Linked DNA regions of Homo sapiens: region 1 is linked to region 2. Evidence: fine-mapped expression QTL. Tissue or cell type: testis. Region 2 holds a variant in brackets; the other region holds the start of a gene. All regions are shown on one strand. Distances are from middle to middle.

Region 1 (4,239 bases), 75 kb after region 2:
TTCATTCATTCAACAAATATTTATTTACCAAGTATCTGTGTGCCAGGCTCTCTGCTACTCTGAAACCTAACTTCCACCCAGAGTTTCACCCACAGAAACCTAACTTCCCTCCTCATCGGCTAATGCATCTCAACCGTTCATCTAGTAGGCAGTGAGCATAGCTGGGGTGACCATTTGTCAAAGTATCTCCGAAACAGTCCCAGTTTACACCTATTATCCCAGTGTTAATTAATAATAGCACCGCCTCAACAATGCCCTAATCTAGAGAATTACATAGTTCTAAGCACAGCAAATCTCCTACAAACAGATCGGGATTCAAATATTTCATTCTACAGTCTTGGGATCCTCAATGCAAGGGACAGGCTGTAAGCAAGGGTCTGGACAGCCCGGCTTGCCCTCTTGTCTCTCTGTCATGCAGAGGAGCTGTAGTTCAGTTTTTGTTTTTTGTTTATTTTACGGAGCACATTTAAAGTATAGTCTTCCTTGTCAGGAGATTCCTGGCACTAAAGAGATGGACGGGAAACTTAACCGCCTCCTCCAGATCGTCCACTATTGCATCATTTGAAACCAAAGCCTTCTAAAGGCAGCGACTCGCACAATTCAAGTCAGGTAAGATGGCAGGAACAGCAGCTGTGGGTGCTGGCTGCTGCTGGAGCCTCGGTCTCAACTTCAAGAGCAGGGAGAGCGCTGTCTCTGGAGTTGCCAGGTGCTGAAATGAATAGTCAATAAATCAACAGGTCCGGCGCGCTAGCCCCTGGGTGCTCAGGCCCGGGCGCGCCACGACTGAAGGAGTGGCTAATTACTCAAACACAGTTGAAACCAAAGGAGGCCGGAGTCGGTTCTCAAAGTGGTTTCCCTCCGGCCACCACCGACTCTGAGGACCTGCTAGGGGAAGTGTCCCGGCCCCGTGGAGGGAGAGGGAAGCACCACAGCCTGGGCTGCGGCTCTAGCCCTCCAGCCCCAGCCCCTGGCAGCCCTGCCCTGCTGTCGCGGCAGGTACCCCTCTACTCATTGTTCCTCAGGCTGCCCCCTCTTTTCATCAATCGTAAGCCTTTCGGTTCTGCCACCAGGAAACTTCCATAGAAGGTGAGATTCCCAGGTCGAGGGATGATTCCACGAACACCCAGAGAGCCAGTGCCAGGACTTCAGGGTCAGACTTCGTAAAGCCCAGGCGTCGCTGGGCCGGCCCGGAACAGCTCAGAGCTGCGGGTCCTATGGTCCCGCGCCCTCACGCCCATCCAAGTGCTGGCAGGACGTGGGTCCTCCATCCCCACGACTCGCGGGGCCGGCGCTCCGAACCTCGGCACTGCGTCCGCTCCGCGCGCCGCAGGGACCCTCCTAGCTCCAGCGGGGACAGACCTACCAAGGCCGGGCGCCCCCACCCGGCGCCCGCCAGCCCACCCCAGAGAGGGGACCAAGGGGGCGGGGCCTCGGCCGTCCTAGCCGGGCTCACTCTTCTCTCCCGGACTCCTGTCCAGGGCTTCAGGGGCCGGGCCCGCAATCCCCATCGGATCGTACCTCGTCCGCTTCCAGCTCCGCTCGGCTGCCTAAGAGCGCCATATTCCTCCTCTGGCTGCTGCCACCCAAAAACCAAGCAGGGAACTCAGAGCCGACTCCTGCTCTCGGCTCTGGGCTCAGCCCAGCGCAAAGGAGGGCAAAAGGGGACGGCCCGGCGCTCCCTCCGGGTCTCGGGCGGGGCCTGAGTGCAGCTACTCGATTTCCCCGCCCCCGGAGCCGGCAGGCCAGCACAGCATCCATTTCCTCCCCGGACGCCGCGCCGCTGGCCGGGCCACTTGCCCGGCCCCCAGCGGGCGGCAGCCCCGCCCAAGTGGGTGGAGTCACCTCCCAGATAAAGTTTCCCGGTCTGGCACGCCCTCTGGGAGGGTTTCCTAAGCTTTCCTGCCGCCTGTTCTCTGCGGTGGCTGGGCACACCTGGAAAGAAGCTAGAGAGCGCGGGCATGACGAAGCCAAGGTCAAAGCAGCGCCCCACCTGGGGTCCGTGGAAGCATCCACCTGGTCTTTGGTCCGGTGCCAGTCCTTTTCCCTCGCCAGGTGGCCACCGCATCTCGCAGATGGTGTGGCCTGAGGGCAGCCTTGGGTCACGGTCACTGGTCCCCGAGAGGCCTCTGACACACCACCCACCTGGACTGTAGGTGGAAGGACTCTGCTTGCTTCTGTGTTCAAAAAATAGAAAAAAACGCGGGACAGAGATTTATACATATTGGAACTCCTCTACTTCCCCCTACCCGGACAGTGTATTCTCCCCATAGCATCCTGTATTTTGTAACTCCAAACATAGGTGTATAATTCGTGCTTGAACTATAAACTCCATGGGGGTAGGATGCTATCTGTCCTCTTCAAGACTGTATCCCCAACACCCAGAACAGTGTCTTGCACATCGTAGGTGCTCAACAGATATTTGTTGGCTGAGTTTAGAAACTGAACCTTGCTTCTGACATGTAAAATAACTGGAAAATTAAAAGCTAGATCTTTAAGAGTTTGGGGGAGAGAGGTCAGATTTACTTTACATACAGAAAAATGCACCAAGTTAAATGTGTGATTCAGTGACAAGTGTTTACAAAGCATCCCAGTCATAATATAGAACATCCTGAAAAGTTTTCTGTGACCCTTTGCTGTCAATTTCCTACCTCCGCTCCCTAGCCTCTGTCAATCACTGATCTGCTATCAACATCGATTTGCCTTCTCTAGAATTTCATATAAATTTAATTAGAGCATGTGGTCTTCCATGTCTGGCTCATGAAAGGCTATTTAATAGTCATCCAGTGATAACTGTAAAAACAGCTAATAGTTCTTGAGTCCTTACTATGTGCCAGGACTCTACTGAACCTCTTGCATATAGTATTTCATTTATTCTTCATAACCCCATAAAGTAGGGTGCTGTTCTCTTTCAGATGAGTAAACTGAGGCTCAGAGAGTTCAAGTAATATGCCTGAGGCCAGACAGCAGTTAAGTAAGTAGGGATGCCAGCATCTGAACCCCAGCAGTCTAACTCTAGGGCCTAGCTGATAACCATTGCTTTGTACTGTACTGGCTCTAGCCACCCTCCCTCTCTTTCTTTCTGTGTCAGTAGAGCAGTTGTCTGTGCAAGTCCATTACATACATTTTCAGTGAGTCACTTTGCATCCTTAATACTTGCTGTACAATTTTAATGGCTTGGCATGTACTTTTGTACTAGAATAATAAAATGGTTTCTACAGCAGAAACATTGAAAAAATGGGTTAGATCGTGTGATGGTTGCTCAACTCTCTGAATTGTCTAAAAATCCTTGAATTGTGTACTTACAATAGGTGGAACTTATGATTATGTAAATTATATCTTAGTAAAGCTGTTTTAAAAAAACTAGCTGACACAGGCTAGGTGTGGTGGCTCACGCCTGTATGGGATTACAGCACTGGGAGACTGAGGAAGGAGGCTAACTTGAGTTTAGGAGTTCGAGACTAGCCTGAGCAACATAGCAAGACCCAATTTCTAAATAATAATACTTTTTTTTTTTGAGAGACAGTTTCACTCTCATCTCCCAGGCTGGAGTGCAATGGCTCGATCTTGGCTCACTGCAACCTCCGCCTCCTGGGTTCCCACTAATCTGTAAATTGCTTAGAAGGAGGCACTATCTTATTCATCAGTGCAGGTACTCAATAAAAAAGCTCCAGGTGCAGTGGCTCATGCCTGTAATCCCAACACTTTGGGAGACCGAGGCGAGCGGATCACGAGGTCAGAAGTTCGAGACCAGCCTTACCAACATGGTGAAACCCAGTCTCTACTAAAAATACAAAAAGCAGCTGGGCATGGTGGTATGCGCCTGTAATCCCAGCTACTGAGGAGACTGAAGCAGGAGAATTGCTTGAACCCTGAAGGCGGAGGTTGCCGTGAGCCGAGATCGTGCCATTGCACTCCAGCCTGGTGAAAAGAGTGAAACTCCGTCTCAAAAATAATAATAATAATAATACTTTTATTATTTAGAACACATGCTCTGAACACTTAGAATCAGATGGACCAGAAGAGACATAGAGTTTGTTTAATTCCAATACCCTTGAAAGTTTCCATTCCTTCCCAGACCCCCAACCCACTCCTACCTCCTCCTATGTTTCACTTTCTGAGGCTAGAATTCCTATCCAGGTCCAGATTCTACTCTGTATTACTCATGCATGGTTCTGTTTTTCAAAGTTCATTGGTTCCTGAATTGATAGCACATCCTTTTGACATGAAGCCATCTCACTG
Region 2 (4,239 bases):
ACTCCACCTCCTCTAGTCCTAAACAACCACTAATCTACTTTTTGTGTCTATAGATTTGCCTATTCTGGACATTTCATATCAATGGAATCATAAAAAGTATGGTCTTTATGCTTGGCTTTTTCAGTTAGCATGTTTTCAAGATTCATTCATGTGGTATCATGTAACAGTACTTTATTCCTTTTTATTACCTAATATTATTCCATTGTATAGCTATACCACATTTTGTTAGTCATTTGTTGATAATATATGAATAATTTGCATTTTGTGGCCATTACGAATAATGCTGTTATGAACATTCATGTACAAGTTCTTGGCCAAGGCATGGTGGCTCACTCCTGTAATCCCAGCAGGACTTTGGGAGGCCGAGGAGGGCAGATCACTTGAGGTCAGGAGTTCAAGACCAGCCTGGCCAACATGGCAAAACTCCATCTCTACTAAAAATACAAAAATTAGCCAGGCATGGTGGTGCACACCCGTAATTCCAGCTACTCGGGAGGCTGAGGCAGGAGAATTGCTTGAACCCGGGAGGCGGAGGTTGCAGTGAGCCAAGATTGTGCCACTGCACTCCAGCCTGGGTGACAGAGTGAGACTCCATCTCAGAAAAAAAAAAAAACAAACAAGTTATTGTGTGGACATGTATTTTCATTTCTCTTAATTATATATCTAGCATTGCTATGGAATGCTAAATTATGGTATGTGGAATTGCTACATTATGTGGTAACTTTATGTTTGACATTTTGAAGAACTACTAGACTGTTTTCCAAAGTGGCTGTGTGATTTTTCCGATTTTTTTAATTTTTATTTTTTGTAGAAATGGTGCCTTGCCATCTTGCCCAGGCTGGTCTTGAACTCCTAGGCTCAAGCAATCCTCCTACCCCAGCCTCCCAGAGTGCTTGGATTACCAGCATGAGCCACCATGCCCGGCCAGCTATGTGATTTTATATTCCCACCAATAATGTACTAGATTCCCAATTTCTTAACAGCTTGGCCAATACTTGTTTTTGTCCATGAGATATGGTGGTATCTCACTGTAGTTTTTGGTGTGCATTTGCTTAATGACTAATAATGTTGAGAATCTTTTTTAAGTACTTAATGGCCAATTGTATGTCTTCTTTGGAGTAATGTCTATTCAGATTATTTTCCCATTTTTAATTGAGTTACTTATCTTTTTATTATTCATTTGAATACTGCTCTAATTTTAATCACTAGGTACAACTATTTTCGAGGGTAAAGCTTACAGCTATCTTTGTTTATACTTTTTCTCTCAATCAAATCATAGATAGCAGAGCCAATTCAAATTTAACTTCCCCAATAAATCCAACACAATATGTTATGTTCCTGCGCAATGAGATAAAAGCTAGTCCATATTTAAAACTAAAATAAAATTTCAAAAATGAATAAAAATATGTCCTTCAAGGTTTTCCATCAACGTTAAAATCTCTCCTTAGGGGAGAAAAGGAATGAGTGTAGATAGGCCAACTGATGTGCTCTGGAAGCCACCATGTTTGTAATCTAGAGTCGAAATGGTATCCATCAAGCCAGTGGAGCCCTCTCAAATCCTGCAGAGACCTTGGCACATCTCACCAGGAGCTCCCCCGAGTCACCCCCACCAGGGCTGGAGCTTGAGCTCGTCACTGTGATACTCATGGGCAAGCTAGGGAATCCAGTTCTGCCCAGCTATGTCCCCCCTCCCCAACCTGAACAAGAACCTCAAGGCACCAGGCACTCCTCTGTCCAGCTCATCACCTGAAACAACAGAGGTCTCATCACAGTAAATAAAAATCAAGTATATACCCATCTGCTTGTGCGGCAAATGGCTCTTACCCATAGGCGCCACCTACTGACCTCCAGGTCAAACTGCACAGACCAATATAAAACCTGCAGACAGAATCGCGCAGGGCCTTAGAAGCGAACCCAAAAGACCCTACCCAACATACTAACGCTATAGTTACACCCCTAGAAGAGGTGGAAACGGGAGGTGGGGGGGACGCCCATCTAAATGAAAATAAATTCAAAAAGAAAAAGCAGTAGCCTCTCTAGATGAGAAGAAACCAACATAAAAATTCTGGCACCATGAAAAATCTAAATGTTGTGACATCACCAAAGGGTCACACTAGCTGTCTAGCAACAGACCTTAACCAAATAAAAACTCAGAAACGGCAGATAAATAATTCAGAGTATGGACTGCAAGCAAGCTCAATGAGATCCAAGAAAAGGTTGAAAACTCAACACAATGAAACCAAGAAAGTAATCCAAGAAATGAGGGAAGAGACTAATATCCTTTAAAAAACAAAAACAGAGCCCGCCTAGCTGAGGCGCGCAGGCAGCAGCCGTTGCTGCGACGCCTCTGGTGTACTAAATCTGGAGGGGAGGTTGGGCCCTCGAAGAGAAGGAGAAGACCCTCAAACCTTGGCTAACGGCGACGTAGCTGGCTTTTTGGAGAGGCCGCCTAACGTTCTGCCACTTCATTGGAATCAGCCTCCGCCCTTCTCAACTGGCTGCTGCAGGGCCAGTGGTGCCGGGAGACGACGGCGG[C/G]CGCTCAGGCACGGTTCGAACACTCTGGGGACTCTTTCCCTGAACTATAAAAATTCTCAAACACTGCATACACAGAGAGGATAGGAGACATGGCATTTGTGGATAGGGAAAGAGGAAATTTTGCGATAGGACAGCTGTAGATCCTGTTGCGGACACCCAGCCGGGCAGTTGGAGGCGGGGTCAGTCCAGAAGCCTTCAGATAACACCAGGGTGTAGCCCTGGCGAGAAATCTTCAGTTGCTTCAGGACCTTTTCTAGCCCCACGCGACGGCTAGGTCCTCCGTGAGAGAAAACTGGTTCGAGAAGCATGGCCAACATTCCCAATGATCCGCAGATGTGGTTTCCACCTGGCCGGTGCCATGACACCGGAACACACGGCGACAAGGAGAAGGGAGAAGAAAACCTCGCCCTCTCCCTCTCCCTCTCCCTCTCTCTCCCCACGGTCTCCCTCTCCCTCTCTTTCCACGGTCTCCCTCTGATGCCGAGCCGAAGCTGGACTGTACTGCTGCCATCTGGGCTCACTGCAACCTCCCTGCCTGATTCTCCTGCCTCAGCCTGCCCAGTGCCTGCGATTGCAGGCGCACGCCGCCACGCCTGACTGGTTTTCGTATTTTTTTGGTGGAGACGGGGTTTCGCTGTGTTGGCCGGGCTGGTCTCCAGCTCCTAACCGCCAGTGATCCGCCAGCCTCGGCCTCCCGAGGTGCCGGGATTGCAGACGGAGTCTCGTTCGCTCAGTGCTCAATGGTGCCCAGGCTGGAGTGCAGTGGCGTGATCTCGGCTCGCTACAACATCCACCTCCCAGCCGCCTGCCTTGGCCTCCCAAAGAGCCGAGATTGCAGCCTCTGCCCGGCCGCCACCCCGTCTGGGAAGTGAGGAGCGTCTCTGCCTGGCCGCCCATCCTCTGGGATGTGAGGAGCCCCTCTGCCTGGCTGCCCAGTCTGGAAAGTGAGGAGCGTCTCTGCCTGGCTGCCATCCCATCTAGGAAGTGAGGAGCGCCTCTTCCCCGCCGCCATCCCATCTAGGAAGTGAGGAGCGTCTCTGCCCCGCCGCCCATCGTCTGAGATGTGGGGAGCGCCTCTGCCCCGCTGCCCCGTCTGGGATGTGAGGAGCGCCTCTGACCCGCCGCCCCGTCTGGGATGTGAGGAGCGCCTCTGCCCGGCCGCGACCCCATCTGGGAGGTGAGGAGTGTCTCTGCCCGGCCGCCCCGTCTGAGAAGTGAGGAGTCCCTCTGCCCGGCAGCCGCCCCATCTGAGAAGTGAGGAGCCCCTCCATCCGGCAGCCACCCCGTCTGGGAAGTGAGGAGCGTCTCTGCCCGGCAGCCACCCCGTCCGGGAGGGAGGTGGGGGTCAGCCCCCGCCAGGCCAGCCGCCCCATCCGGGAGGGAAGTCGGGGGGTCAGCCCCCCGCCCAGCCAGCCGCCCCATCTGGCAGGGAGGTGGGGGGGTCAGCCCCCCGCCCGGCCAGCTGCCCCATCCAGGAGGGAGGTGGGGGGGTCAGCCCCCCGCCCGGCCAGCCGCCCCGTCTGGGAGGTGAGGGGCGCCTCTGCCCGGCCGCCCCTGCTGGGAAGTGAGGAGCCCCTCTGCCTGGCCACCACCCCGTCTGGGAGGTGTACCCAACAGCTCATTGAGAACGGGCCATGATGACAATGGCGGTTTTGCGGAATAGAAAGAGGGGAAAGGTGGGGAAAAGATTGAGAAATCGGATGG

Evidence for each region. PIP is the estimated chance that this variant, and not a neighbour inherited with it, causes the effect.
Region 1: it holds the start of TTC39B, and the variant in region 2 is fine-mapped to the expression of TTC39B in testis (GTEx, PIP above 0.99).

The regions. Positions count from the first base shown.
Region 1 is chr9:15,305,566-15,309,804 of GRCh38, forward strand. It overlaps TTC39B (tetratricopeptide repeat domain 39B), which reads right to left and starts at 1,651. Exons shown (of 20, transcript NM_152574.3): 1 at 1,519-1,651. The coding sequence starts at 1,560. RefSeq lists enhancers at 289-852, 1,416-1,978 and silencers at 1,216-1,535, 1,566-1,905.
Region 2 is chr9:15,230,387-15,234,625 of GRCh38, forward strand. The region is part of intron 2 of TTC39B (tetratricopeptide repeat domain 39B); the gene reads right to left. Among named protein-coding and RNA genes, the nearest start is that of TTC39B, 75 kb to the right of the region's middle. The variant C/G (reference allele first, on the strand shown) is at 2,536.